Linked DNA regions of Homo sapiens. The protein of the gene in region 2 interacts with the protein of the main gene of each other region in a pairwise test. Each region holds a gene or a part of one and is shown on either strand. Other genes may lie near its edges. The genes, in order: MUSK and ILKAP.

Region 1 (7,845 bases), on a different chromosome or scaffold from region 2:
ATTAAAATGCTATACTCAGTATTGGTGAGACTGAAATAAATGGGCTGTCTTATCTGACTAGGAGAGGTACATGTTAATAAAATAATTCAGGAAGGTAATTTTTTAATATATTTAAAAAGTATTAAAAGTGCATTTATCCTTTAATCTAGAAATTTCACTTCTAGGAGTTATAGCTAAAGAAATCACTTAAGATAAATGCTTACAAAATTTAGCAACAGGATGATCCAAACATTACATTTTATAATGGAAAAATAGAAATAAACCAAATGTCTAACAGTAGAATAGTTATGTCAATTACGATAAATCTGTATAATACTATTCAACCATCAAAATTAATGTTGCACATGAATACTTGTTCATGTAGAAGATGTTTAAGATATATTAAGTGATAAAAGCAAGGCTTGAAGTAATGTAGCAGTATGATCTTATTTTTGTTTAAATTATCTATCTATCTCTCTCTATGTATCATCTATCTATCTATTTACCTACCAACCTACTTACCTACCTGTCTATCTGAAAAAGCCTGGAAGAATATTATGATGTTAATGTTAATTACCTCTGGTTGGTGTTTTTTCATTTTTATTATTGTCTATTATGATTATACATATTATTGTATATTATTGCATATTATTTTTCTTTTCAAACATAATATATTACTTTTATAAGAAAATAAGTAAATGTTATTTTAAGGTAAAGTAAGTAGATGTGATCTCTTGTGTAAAGTATGAAAAAGGCTTAATAGGCTTTTTACAAGATAAATCCCATAATTCGATTAGAAAATGAACACAGCAGAAAAATGGGCTGTAGACAATTGCCAAAATAAAAACTGTTAATGACCTAGGAACAAGAAACATTCAACCTGACTAGTAATTTAAAAAATAAAATTAAAAAGAGGTTCTCTTTTTCTATAACCAAAGAGACAAAAGATTTCTAAAAAACAGAAAATTATCTATGAAAGCAAATGTTTAGGGCTATGAGATCTCTTGTACAATGTAGAAGTGGCAGTAATATTTCTGCAGAATATGAAACCACATAACAGAAGTGTTAATATTGTACATGCCATTTGGTCCAGACATTTCCTTTCTCTGAATTTTCATAAAAAGAAATGTGGACATGAACAAATAAGGATGTTAATTACAGCATTTTTTATAATGATAAAAATTGGAAAAAACCTAAATGTTCAAAAATACAAGATTGATTAGCTAAATTACAGTATATGAATAAAATAGAATATTATTCCAAAATTGGGTTTTTAGAAGAATATTTAATGACGTGGAACAGGTTCGTAATATACTGTAAAATGAAAAGAAAGTGTTCTTTTTCTGCTCTACCACGATAGCAGAGAATATGTTTTTGGGTGTCATGTGAAAAATACTCTGGTATCTTACCATGTTTGGTATTTGATCACTAAAAATGACTGCTGGTGCCTTACTGATATCTGTCCTGGCACTTGGTAACAGTGACACTGTGAGTGTCTCTCTTTTGTCTACCTTTTTGAATGTATATGATGATTCTACCATGAAAAAAAATCTTATTTAAAAAAGTAAACAATATTGGTGAATAATGCATCTATACTCCTGTGATTCAGAACATTAGATCGAGCACTTAGGGAATAAGTCAGTGATCTTAACTTGAAAATGTAATTAGAACTCATGAAAAAATAAACATGTCACCTATTAGATGTTATGATTAACTTAAATTGATAATGCTGAAATATACTTTTTTTGCTATTCATTAAAAAGACTTAGGAAGTTAATAGAATAAAATATAGATATAGAGTGTGCTTGAAACGACATGCAAATTACAAATCACTTCCACAGAGTTACTGAGGTTCAGTTATTGCTTCTATCATGTACAGAGGCTCTACAGTATAGTGGTTGAGAATTCGGCCTCTTTTGGTCAAAAAGTAGGCTCTGTTGCTGTGTGCACTCGGGCCAGTTGCACAATCTCTCTGTGACTGTTGGAGGCTGAGCTTGCAGTGAGCCAAGATCGTGCCACTGCACTCCAGCCTGGGCGACAGAGCGAGACTCCGTCTCAAAAACAAAACAAAACAAAGCAAAACTAAAATGTATATAATGATAGTACCAACATTACAGGGATGTTGTGAGGTTTAAGTTCATATATTTAAAGGCCTCAGAATACACATGGTAAGATTTCAATAAATGCTAGCTGATATTATAATTTTTATGATTACTGTTACTCTATTTTCTGTCAGCCTGACTTCTATGTCTGTCTTTTACAACAAAACTTTATCAGCGGAGAAAGCCCGAAGCTGTCTTTGAATTTTGCAGAGCATACATGAACCATCTAAAATAAGCCATGGATATCTATGCTCAAGTTCTAGACTTGCTGGTGGCCCTCTCCAACTTTTCTGCTTTGTTGGCATCTTGACTTTCTGCTTTAGACACACGCTGCAACTTTATTCTTTATTCAGTCATTTGGATTACAGTATCAATTTTGGACTTAGACTCATGATTTTTATCTGAAGCACTTCTTTAGGTCTCAGTCCTAAATGCTGACCTCGCTATTTATGAACCAGAACTGTGACTAAGGACCGCCTTACTGTCGTTGTATCCTACAGAATCTGTTCAGGTCTGAAATGAGAGGAAGGCCAGCTAATAGACAGGGTGGGCAACGGTAGAGGTTGAGTCATTGGCTCTTGGGTTGAAGGGAAGAGGATGTCAGCAGGAGGATTTTAGGAAGTAAAACTAATAGAAAACTGATGATGAAAGAGAGGGCAAAGTCTAGGAAAATTTCTACATTTTTGTCTTGGTTGCCTGGAGACACTATGAATAAGAAATGGCAGGTTTCCCACCAAAGATGTCAAGCTGTTACATGAGGCAGATTTGGGGATTTCAGGCAGAGTTTTCCAGCAGACAGCGAAAATCTACTTTCAAGAATTCACACCATTCCTCCAATGCCCTAACTACCAATTAGTCTGAATTAAGATAAGCTGGTATAGAGTAGACTGTTATTTTCTCTTCCCTGTTCGTTTTCAGGAGAATTTGGGTTCCTGCTATATCAGAAATAAACTCAGATCATGTATGGACTTAGATAAAGATGTATTGTGTGAGGATCCACTGAGAAAAAATCTGAACCCCCAGGAATCTGAGTTCCAGAGCTGCTGCTTTTTTTTTTAAATCATGAAATACAACAAAATCAGTTAATATGTCATGCACAAAGTTGTTAAGCAGAACGATATTAATTCTACAGCCAACTGAATTTGTTTCTAAAAGGAATAAAATGTCAGAATGCACAGAAATATCAGTTTTGAAATAACTCAGAGCCACAAGTGTATCTTGTGAAATCTCATATTATAAATTATGGTTTAAGAGATTTAAATAGACTCTAGTAATAATATTAATAGGTGAGAATGTTGAAATGTGTGGCTTCAAAGGCAAATGCAGGAAAAATAGTAATACTTTGCAAAAGGCATATACATATCAATCTACAATGGTATTTAAAATGTTATTATTTCTGCCAGAGTGTTTATTACATGAATGAAATAAAAGAAAAAAATAGCTTAATAACTAAAAAAGGACAGAAGTCCTGGAAAGAAGAAGAAATAAAGATTAAAGCAATGGAAAAGATACCAATACAATTTTTAAAGGAAAAGGTAAATCAGTAAGATACAAAAACTTGTTTCAAGAAAACTGGAGGAATAAAATAAGCAGACTTAATTCATGACAAATGCACAGAAAGGAAAAAAGGAGGGGCACAGGACAGAAAAGGGAACTCAGAGTTACAGGCTTGCTGATTTGCTGTTTCATTCCTTAGAAACCCTCTATCAATAAAATGTAACCACAACTCTGCAGAATACAAACAAATATAAAATTATGCATTAAATGCAAGAAAGATTTAATAAAACACTAAGACTCGTCTTTGGGGGGAGACAGAATGAGTGGCTTTTCCTTCTTTTTAGTTTTCTGTACTTCACCTAAGTGTCTTACATGACGATTAAGCTACTTTCACAATGGACAGGAATTAACTCAATTAAAAAATGAAGCTCTGAATCCCATTTCATATTAAAATTTAATACAGCAGAGCTTTACTCTGTGACCAGCTACTTTGGAAACTGAACAGGATGACATTCTTCCCTGTGCAGTGTGTATTACAAACCTTCATGAAGAAGAATAGTTGTCTCCATTATCTGACACATTTCCTAGCCTGTGTTTCCAATCACTGGCTTTCAATGGGTCCGTCTACCACATGGGTTTTGCACTGTCTTTGCTCTCCCTGGGAAGCAAACAACACACTACTCATGTTTACTCTTACTCTTTCCTATGTGGGTCTTGTTGGGCCTCTGGTGTAGGATTCCCCTGGCTCACAGAGTCTGAGAGGAAACTGCAGCATTTTATTTGAACGTCTTCAACCTTAGACACTCACAGTTCCCTCTGCCCTCTCACACATGCGTTCCAGAATTCGGTGAATACTGGTGAAACTGGGTCTGTCTGCAGGCAGCTTGCTCCAACATAGACGCATGAGATTGTACAGCTCCACGGGGCAGTTCTCAGGGCAGGAGAGGATGTTGCCATCTCGCACGTAGTAAATGACCTCCTCATGGGCCATCCCATAGTAGGGCTGCAGGCCATAGGAGAAGATCTCCCAGAGGACCACGCCATAGGCCCACACATCAGACTCTGTAGTGTAGCGGTTATAAAAAATGGACTCTGGTGGCATCCAACGGATAGGGATAGCGTCGTTTTCATTAGCTTTGTAGTAGTCTGCTGAGTAGATGTTCCTGGAGAGGCCAAAGTCGGCAATTTTCACCACCATGTTCTCGCCCACCAGGCAGTTCCTGGTGGCTAAATCTCGGTGAACAAACTTACGTTCTGAGAGGTAAGCCATGCCAGCTGCCACCTGCCTGGCAATGCAAAGCTGCTCAGCACAGGAGAGGGGTGGGGGCCCAGGGCTGGAGACCTGAGCCCTCATAGACAAGTCACTGTGACTGAGGCTGCACACGGTGTGAGGGGACATGCTGCGGAGGAACTCATTGAGGTCACCATAGGCCATGTATTCAAAGAGCAGGCACATTGGCTTCCCGACAGCACACACTCCTGGAACCAAAAGACCATCCCTGTTAGTCTCAGTTTCTACAATGAAACAATGGAAAGAGCACTCCAAAAGCAAACGACCATGTCAGAACATATGAAGCCCTGTTTTTTGTTGTTGTTGTCGTATGTTTGTTTTTTAATATTTGTATCCTTTTAATCACAACACAAAAGGAGTCTCAGCTAGGAAATGCACTCTGGGTAGTGGGGTTTCTGTCCCTTGGCTAAAGTTTTTGAGGACTTCCAGCAGAGCGCTGTTGTCCTGGGCACTTGTCATAAGTACATCGTACATGGTGCATCAAGTTCATGGTGCATATAAGTACATGGTGTATCAGTTCTCTGGAGTGGCTCTTCTCTCTGAAATCTGGAGGCCCTGGTTTTTTGTTGACAACACCATGGTTGAACCCTGACCCTATTTCTCTGCCTAAACATCTCCTCTTTGCCTTTAAGATTCAGTTTATCACTCTCCCTAGGGTGCCTCAGCTCCTGATCCTTCCAGTAACTGTTAGATTTTCCTACTGTCATCCTTTCACAGAGAACCTACCATCCTATTTTATAATCATTTGACTATTTGAGGTTTCTCCCCAACGTTTTAGCACTTTGAAAGGAGAGATTGAACCTTATTCTTCTTTAAAAATTCCCCACACCTACCACGTGTCTGGCAGAGCAGATGCCTCATAATGTTTGGTGAGTTAATTTATGAATGGATGCTTGCTCTGAGTATGTAATGTAATTGCTGTCTGTTTCTGTTTACTTCTATGAAGGATGTTAATAAGAAAGATGTATCAAGTTTGGAAACAATAACAAATACAATTCAAGTGTCTTAGATGAAGTATTTAAGTTGCTGCAGTAAAACATTTTGAAATTTAGGTTTTACAATGTTCATGCTACCAAAAAAGTTAATATAAATAAAGTCTTAGATTTAAAGCCAGAAGATCATTTTCAAATCTTAAAGTCTTGATATATTTGAGAGGGAAACTGGAGAACTTGGAATATTAGATAAGATGGGCATAATTTCACATCATCTTAAAAATAGATTATTAGATCTATTGGGTTTTTTCAGGCAAAAGTTAAAAGTATCTGTTTGAAAAAGAGGAGAAATGAGGAATACTGCTATCTTGGCTTATTTATTTTGGCATTAATTTTTAATTCCAAGGACCTCAATTAGCACATTTCTGTAAACTAAAGGGAAAAAATAAAGAAATACCAACTGGATAATACTTAGAAGTTTCTTCTGTGGGATCCTTTTTGGATAATCTTTAGTTAACAGGGACTTACCTATCTCATCAACTGGCTTTACCATTGTTATGCTGGTTGAGTTGATTTAAAAATAATTTCTTATACTGGAAAAAAATGACAAAATATTTCTCTGAGAAATAAAGTTTTGAACTAAATTGATTTAATGAAATTTTCCACTCTGATAAAGAAAATACTATACAAAAGATTTCTACTTTGTGATTATTATGAACAATTATATATACATGTGTATAGATATAATTTACAATTATATATGTATATACATTTATTTAAGACCTCAAAATGTTTTCTATATTGTAATTACTCCAACCCAACTCTTAGGTGGGACTTCAAAATATAATAATTATTGAGAGGAAGACTGTATTTTATTCATCCTTGTAACCTCAGGTCTAATACTACACATGGCTCACTATGGGTTTTCAATATATGTTGATGGGTGGATGGATGAATTAATGCATAGGTGGATGCATGGATAGATTTAAGGATGGATGCATAGATGGATGGGCATAAGAAAACCTCATGCCTAGCCCAAGCCATGTCTTTAAACTTTAGCATGACATCTTCAATGAATAATCTCACCTGATTGTTCTACTGTTTGCTCCACTGCCAGAATATTCCGTAAGAGTCTATAATATTCAATGCCTACTCCCATTCTAAAATTCTGCATATTTCTTTAGTTATACCATTTTTCCCAATTTATGACTACAAAACCATTATCCACTAGGATTTCAATAAAAGGGAAACAATTTTTAAGATACGAACATGTTCAATAAGTGGCTGATGTATCAAATATATAAAACAAAGTAGATTTCTTTTATTGATAGAAGTGAATTTTATGGATTTTCCCAATTCCCCTTTCTTCCACTATTGTCATCTTATTTCACTGGGATTAACTTACAAGAAACTATGAGAGTAGTGGAATCACTTGCATGAATGATTACTGCTTATGTATACTTGATAAAAAATAGAACCTGTGTTCATTGGATATCCAAATGGAATTTAGATATAGCATTTAACAAACGGCAACATAAGTTTCAGTTCTTGTTGGACAATAAAAATGAGAGAAAACTCCAAGTAGTGATGTATAAGCATGCTACTGTGGTTAAATTGGAAAACTGTACATAGTTTCTGTTTGAATCAATTTCAGGAATTCAGGATGTTATAAACTGTATACGAATACAGAGTCAACATTTTAAGAAAAGTTGAAACAGGAATTGCTTGATAATCTTGAAAATATGCATGTATGTATGTTTGTTTAATGACTAAATGTATACTATTTGAGAAAGTAAATAAGGAGGGTAGGGGGCAGAAGCCAGATTCAGATTTTTGTGTGATGAAGAATGAATAAATGAATGTTTAGGAGTTGAGGAAATGGAAGAAGTGTTTTCAAGATGAATTGTTATGTACTTAATATCGTTTATTCATTTATTGAACAAATATTTATAGAGTGCCTACAATGTGCCAGAAACTATTCGAGATACTACTATAGAAATTCTTGCTTTTAATATTTATCTAGATTCCTTCCAATATCCTGACC
Region 2 (7,845 bases):
ATTGCAGGCTTGACCTCCTAGGCTCAAGCAGTCCTCCCACCTCAGCGTCCTGAGTAGCTGGGACCATAGGCATGTGCCACCACAGCCGGCTAATTTTTTGAATTTTTTGTAGAGACAGTGTCTCCTTAAGTTGCTCAGGCTTGTCTCAGAGTCCTGGGCTCAAGCCATCTTCCCACCTTGGTCTCCCAAAGTGCCAGGATTACTCGCATGAGCCACCATACCCAGCCTGGGATTTGCATTAAAACCAGGAAAGGGACCTCTGGAGCCCAAGAAGGCAGATCCATTGAGTGTAAATTTAATTGGGAACACTACATCATGCCTTGCAAATAACAGGCAGTAAGAACAGCTCTGAGTTATAAACCAGATGAGGTTTTTTTTCTCATGGCTCAGGATGTCCTAAATTGAAAAGGAATTCCAAAAAACTTGAAAGAAAAGCAGCTCTCTAGAATAAATGTCATTTCTCGTGGGCATTTTTGTTTTTTTTTTTTCCTTGAAATAGTTTATTTGATGTCTTTTATTCCATATATGTGGGTTTTCTGGCAAAATTTGAAAGGGGAATGGGAATAAGAGTAGTAAGATAGGTTTTAAAAATGAGATATTTAAAATTTATTTGAGTAACAATTCTGTAATATCCTCCCTGCTCTTATGCAGTCATGTGCTGAATAACAACATCAAGTCAGTGATGGACTGCATATATGACGGTGCTCCCATAAGATTACAAATTTTGTAGAGATGGGGGTCTCGCTATGTTGCCCAGGCTGGTCTTGAACTCCTGGCCTCAAGTGATCCTCCTGCCTTGGCCACCTCCCGAAGTGTTGGGATTAACAGGCGTGAGCTGTCGTGTTCAGCCATAATACCATGTTTACTGTACCTTTTCTATGTTTAGGTATGTTTAAATACACAAATACTACCAGTGTGTTACAACTGCCTATGGTATTTAGTGCAGTAACATGCTGTGCAGTTTAGCCTAGGAGCAATAGGCTCTACCATGTATGTAGCTTAGGTGTGTAGTAAGCTGCGCCGTGTTAGTTTCTGTAAATATGTTCTATGATGTTCACACAACAAAGTCACCTAACAATGCATTTCTGTTAAGTGATGCATGACTGTATTTTTTACTGTTTTCGATAAATAACTTGATCTGTTTGTTAATGTTTAAAACCAAATCCGATTTAAATAGGAACGGAGTTCTGAATTTTAGTTTTGTTGTCAGTGAAAAATCAGAATTAACAGATCTTGATCTTTGAAGCAAATGTGAGTTTTAAACATTTAATGTAAAATACTGGGAAAAGTGTTACATCTCTTTTAGAATATTAGACCTTTAGCAGGTCTTGCAGTCTTCACCAGAAACACTCCCACACCTACACACACACAGTGTTTTTGTTTTTTTTTTTTTTAGACAGAATCTCGCTCTGTCACCCCGGCTGAAGTGCAGTGGTGCGATCTCAGTTCACTGCAAGCTCCGCCTCCTGGGTTCACGCCATTCTCCTGCCTCAGCCTCCCGAGTAGCTGGGACTGTAGGTGCCTGCCACCACGCCCGGCTAATTTTTTTGTATTGTTAGTAGAGATGGGGTTTCACCGTGTTAGCCAGGATGGTCTTGATCTCCTGATCTCGTGATCCGCCTGCCTCGGCCTCCCAAAGCGCTGGGATTACAGGCATGAGCCACCACACCTGGCCCACACACAAGTATTTTTTTTTTAAAAAAAGATAAAATGCTGTGAAAGTTACTTAAATATTTGTCTCAGTTAAAGCCTTTTTTTTCCCATTTGTAACAGTGTGACTGGTGTCTTAACCAGTGTGACTTCCTCTGACTTATTAATGTTCACTCTTTGAGACGAAATTTAAAAGCTTTAATGGAAAAGTGTGGTTTTTGCTGTGAGAATTTGATTAACTCTCAATTCGTTCTTTCAGTACTCGGGTTTCATATTTTGCTGTTTTTGATGGACATGGAGGAATTCGAGCCTCAAAATTTGCTGCACAGAATTTGCATCAAAACTTAATCAGAAAATTTCCTAAAGGTGAGACTGAGAACTAAATCAGTTGATACTCAAATTGGTTATTGCTGTTTGGTTGGCTGTGTGAAGCAGTCAGATGTGTTATTTTGGCTTTAGCAGAGAATCATTGATGAGTCTTAAAAGAGTGGTGCTGAGGAGTGGATGCCAAGGCTTCCAGGAGTAGCGGCCATGCAGGTGTGACTTAGAATGGCACTTCTCATGATTCTAAGTGATAGGCACCTTTTGTCAATCGTCTTTGGGTTCAGTTAGTGTCTTGCCTTTACTGGAAAACTAGTAAACCAACTTCAAATAGCACTGTGTTATATGTGAGGAAAGAAACAGAGATTGTTCTGGCTGGGCACGGTGGCTCACACAGCACTTTGGGAGGCCAAGGCCAGAAGATCACTCAAGCCCAGGAGTTTGAGACCAGCCTGGCAACATAGGGAGACTCTATCTCTATAAAAAAAAAAAACAAACCTAACTGGACATGGTGGTATGTGCCTGTGGTCCCAGCTGCTCAGGAGGCTGTGGTGGGAGGATTTTCTGAGCCCCAGGAGGTTCAGGCTGCAGTGAACCACAGTTGCACCATTGCACTGCAGCCTGGGTGACAGAGTGAGACCCAGTCTCAGAAAAAAAAATTTAAAAAAGGAAAGAAATAGGGATTGTTCTTAATCATGCTTGAAAATCAATTGATGTGCAGAAATTACAAAAACAAAATGGCCAGCCCTGGTGACCCACGCCTGTAATCCCAGCATTTGGGAGGCCGAGGCAGGTGGATCACGAGGTCAGGAGTTCGAGACCAGCCTGGCCAATGTGGTGAAACCCTGTCTCTACTAAAAACACAAAAATTAGCCTGGCATGGTTGCGCGCGCCTGTATTCCCAGCTACTCAGGAGGCTAAGGCAGAAGAATCTCTTGAACCTGGGAGGCGGAGGTTGCAGTGAGCTGAGATCGCGCCACTGCATTCCAGCCTGGTGACAGAACGAGACTCCGTCTCAAAAAAATAAAACAAAAAACAAACCAAAATGACAGTGGGAGGAGGATAATCTTCCCTCCTTGAGAGATTGTTTTCTTTTGGCCCTTCTGTAATAGGAGATGTAATCAGTGTAGAGAAAACCGTGAAGAGATGCCTTTTGGACACTTTCAAGCATACTGATGAAGAGTTCCTTAAACAAGCTTCCAGCCAGTAAGTATAACTTGATGATGAAGTTTGAGTGGACTGTGTGTGGTGTTTTCCTAAATGCATTTCAGTCTTCTGATGTGGTTTAACACTATTGCTCACTGTCTGAAAAGTGCGTAGCACTCAGCTTTTATAACCGTTAGCTAAATCTAAAACAGAAAAAAAGCAAGTATCAAGGAAATGGTTCATTTTGAAATATAAGATACTTCCCATTGAGCTCTGGAAATTAGTCTCAAAGTGCTGGGCTATTGGTGGTGACTGTGTTTCTGATGTGTTTCCCCCCAGGAAGCCTGCCTGGAAAGATGGGTCCACTGCCACGTGTGTTCTGGCTGTAGACAACATTCTTTATATTGCCAACCTCGGAGATAGTCGGGTATGTGGCTCTGGAGCCACCCACTTAGATGACAATACGTTTTATGGGGAAAAGACTTTAGCACGTACTTGTTGAATAAGATTAAAGTGATGGTGTCTGGTTGAAACCTTTCTTCTGGGGTTGCTGCAGAGTGTTCTGCTGCAGTTTAACTTCTGGGTAAGGGAACAGCAACTCAGCTAGAGGCTGTTTGTTCTCTGGGGAACTTACGCCCTATGATAGACTTGTGCTTTAAAACCCAGATCCCGTCTTTTTTGTTTCTTTTTTCCTCCCGTGGTTTGTGTGTGTGATGCTGTGGATCAGAATGTAATCAGTATGCAAGTAGCCTAAATCTTCTTTTATTTCCTTTCTCTGACCTTAGACAGTAATGAATGAAAAGCTTTAACCCCTGCCTATCAAAGTTACTGTGATTTCAGAGTAACTTGAGAGCTGTAGCTAGAAAATACCAGATGAGGTGCCATTCATCACCCGAGCCCGGTCCCTGGCTGAGGGAGAAAGCCCAGGGTGTTGTTCCCCCTGGTGACAGTCGTGGGGATGCTGTAAAGCCTAGAGGGTGCTGCTGCGGAAAGCTGGATGCAGACCCTGCCTCCTCTGCATCAGGACCATGTGTTCCGTTCCGTTGCCGCTTTTTCACCCGGCCTCCTTGCTCCCTAGGCAGTCACAGGAATCAAGTGACTGTCCACACTTAAGCAGCATCTTTAGACCCCTCCCCACGATGCTTCTGGGGGGATGATTCATCAAATACTAAGTGCTAGGGGTATGGCAGAGACTATAACAGATGACAGCCCCTGCCTGGTGGAGTTTACATTCTGGTGGCCCTTTAGTAGACTGGCCTTAGCCCACATGTGTTTAGACCACATGACTTCAGAAATAGCAAGAGGAAAATTGGCAAAAAAACAAAGACAGGAGTCAGACCCAAATTTGAATCCTGGCTCTGCTCTGTGACTTTATTGAGTTACTTATTCTTCGTGCCTCAGTGTCTTCCTGTAAAACAGACACAATGAACCTGGCAGGGGCGAGAACACCTGGAGGCACTGGTGTGGACGGCCTACCTGGCACTCGGCCAGCATGCACAACGCTTGCCCTCCTCTTTGCCTTCCATAGGCTCATGGACATGTCTCTGGCCTTCTAGACTCCAGGCCAAAAGGGACCTTGATACTTGTTGAGTGCTTCCTTTCATGTCACAAATGTGACAACAGCCAGAGTGAGCACTTGTCTGTAGTTATTCAGCAGAGTTTGTACCAGAGTTGATATCAAAACCAGGGGCGACTCTCTCCCTAACTGTTGTGTCTTTGACACTTCTTTGCTGCTTGATTCTCTGAACTTACGTTTATCAGCAGGAGGCTGAATGTGAAACTCCATTGTTAACTGTTTTCTTCAAACTCCATTGTTAACTGTTTTTTTCAACTGGTACCTTTAGATGCTGCGCCCACTGAATTTCATGACTATTACAATCTCCATCTTCCCAGGCAATCTTGTGTCGTTATAATGAGGAGAGTCAAAAACATGCAGCCTTAAGCCTCAGCAAAGAGCATAATCCAACTCAGTATGAAGAGCGGATGAGGATACAGAAGGCTGGAGGAAACGTCAGGTAACCAAGGGACTGAGAGGAGCTCATGGGAAGGAGGGCTGTTAGCTGTAGAAGGGTCCCGAGACCTTCAAGGAGTAGAACTTCCCCTGTTACGTAGTCTTCAGTGTGACGAGGCTCTGTCTGAGATCTAACACTGGTGACATAGGTGGATGACAGTTGTAGATTTCACATGTGTCCACGTGGAAGGAAACTTGCCTCCCTACATTTGCAAAAGGACAAATTCATATTTACCATTCACAGTGTTTTCTCTGTGCCTAGGAAGTTTCTTAAATACTGTCACTTTTCGTGGTGGCGGGCGCCTGTAGTCCCAGCTACTCGGGAGGCTGAGGCAGGAGAATGGCGTGAACCTGGGAGGCGGAGCTTGCAGTGAGCCAAGATCGCACCACTGCACTCCAGCCTGGGCAACAGAGCGAGACTCCATCTCAAAAAAAAAAAAAAACCAAAAAAAAAACCTGTCACTTTTCACATTGAATAAGTTACAGTTTTAGGTGAATTCTCCAGAGAGAAAATCTGAAGTAGTTAAGACGGGTTAAGTAATGTCTTTGGACTTCTTGGGAACAACTGGCACAGAGGACCATGTCTTACTTGGCTCTGTCTTTTGCAGTTTCATTTCACTCTCTCTTTAAATCTTTGAAAACCATATGTCTGCTCTGGTTTTATTATCTGCTTCTATCCAAGGCAGCTAAAGGAGGGCATAAGTCTTTTCTTTAGAATTCCACTTCAAGGACATTGCATTATGAATTAGACCAGGAGTATTTTCTGGTTTGTTGTACAGTTTGACTATTAAAATTTTATTTTCTGCCAGAGATAAGAGAGATGTCATCTCTTAGTATAAGACTGCACTTACCTATCCTTTGAAGTGTAGTTTCTCTTCTGTTGTTCATTTGGGGAAGCCTTTTTTATTGCTCCAGGCTGAATCTAGTCAGTGGTACAGGGAGGTTTCTGGAGAGTAGTTGGAACCCTTAGCGTTTGTTCAAAAAGCTCTTGGATTAGTAAGAAGCAGTTTCATTCACGGTCGCTGCAGTTTACATGAGCAGTGATGGGATTATAGGCCTGGTTTCAGGCCTCAAGCAGTGCTGTTGGCCCAGTTTTTGCCACCGTAACTACTGTCCTGGTAACTACTGTGGACAGTCATGCCTGAGAATGTGACTCTAACATGAGCGTAAGCATCACCTCTTCTCCCCTTTCTTGTAAGTTTTACATTCATTCTGCTTTTGCCTGAACTCCTTGAAAATAATTGGATACTGACAGTCCGATGGCTGAAAGTAAGGCCAGTTGTGTTGCAGTTGCTTCCTATATCCCAGTCCTTACCTGATTCAGAGAAGTGTTTACATGCCTTAGAGAAATCATTTGACAGTGTGGGTTTTGGGTGACTCCTTCATCTCAGAGAAGGGCTGAGGCTAAGAGACCAGCAGCGTGGGTCGCTGCCCCTGAGCAGCAGAGCCCTGTCGTGGTCTGTTCTCCTGCCTGAGGCCAGGGCTGGCTGCCCCACTCTCAGCTTTTATCATTAAATTTTTCAGACATACAGAAGAAACTTGACAATAGTAAAACATTTCCAAATCTACTAGCAGTGAACATTGTGTCATGTTTAGTCTGTATAGATGTGTGTCAGGCTGAGCTGTTTAAAAGTTGCAGATATGATGACATAACAGCCTAAATACTTAAGCATGCATCTCCTGAAGATAAGGACGTTCTTGACATAATTAGTGAGAATTTTCACACCTAAGACAATAATATTTCCTTAGGTTAAGTTATCTAATACCCTGTCTATATTTTTATTTCCCGAGTTATCCCCAAAGTATCTTTGTTTCAAACCAGGGTCTAGTCAGCATCCATGTCTGCCGTGGACTTGGCATTTCTTTTTCTTTTTCTTTTTCTTTCTTTCTTTTTTTTTTTTGAGAGAGAGAATCTTGATCTGTTGCCTGGAGTGCAGTGGCACGATCACAGCTCACCGCAGCCTTGACCTCTGAGGTTGAAGCGATCCTCCAGCCTCAGCCTCCCAAGTAGCTGGGACCACAGGCATGTGCCACTGTGCCTGGCTATTTTTTTATTTTTTGGTAGAGACAGGGTCTCTGTCTGTGTTTTCCAGGCTGAGCTAAGTGATCCTTCTGCCTTGGCCTCCCAGAGTGCAGGGAATACAGGTGTGAGCCACTGCACCCTGCCGAGACTCATTTCTTACCAGGCTTTGAACCATGTTATAGGCCAGCAGTTGTACAGAGTCACCAATATTCTGAACCTGCGTATTTTTTTACGGTGTTATTTCTGTATATTTCCTATAAACTGGAAGTTAGGTGTAAGACCTTCTTTAGATTCAGATGAGATGTTTTTAGCAATGTTTTATGGGGGATGCTGTATACTCAGTAGTCCTTCACTTCAGTAGGCACATAATGTGACCCTTAATTAAGTTGCCAAATCCCAGCACTTGGCTCCGGTGGTGACAGCCGGATGCTCCTGTTGCCTTGCGTCATCAGCAGGTAATCTGGGGAGGTTCACTGGTACCTTGTGAATATTCTGTTTCCTGTCAGCCTTTCACCTAATGGTCTTAGCATCCCTAAATCATTATTTCATCAGGGATGTCAAAGATGATTTCCATATTCTGTGATTCTTTTCACATGTATTAGCGGGCATTCTGTAAAGAAACTTCTTATCATCAATAAGAGAACATCATAGATTCTTCTAAAAAAGCAGGGTCAATGTTTCATTCTGTCCTTTA

Evidence for each region.
Region 1: the proteins of ILKAP (region 2) and MUSK interact in a two-hybrid assay, tested with the Homo sapiens proteins (one study listed by BioGRID and IntAct).

What each region holds. Positions count from the first base shown.
Region 1 is NC_000009.12:110,797,518-110,805,362, reverse strand, and holds part of MUSK (muscle, skeletal receptor tyrosine-protein kinase isoform 1 precursor), read right to left. Parts: intron 5,058-7,845; coding exon 4,375-5,057; 3' UTR 1-4,374.
Region 2 is NC_000002.12:238,179,352-238,187,196, reverse strand, and holds part of ILKAP (integrin-linked kinase-associated serine/threonine phosphatase 2C), read left to right. Parts: intron 1-1,909; coding exon 1,910-2,016; intron 2,017-3,083; coding exon 3,084-3,177; intron 3,178-3,456; coding exon 3,457-3,544; intron 3,545-5,010; coding exon 5,011-5,132; intron 5,133-7,845. UniProt on the Homo sapiens protein: Protein phosphatase that may play a role in regulation of cell cycle progression via dephosphorylation of its substrates whose appropriate phosphorylation states might be crucial for cell proliferation.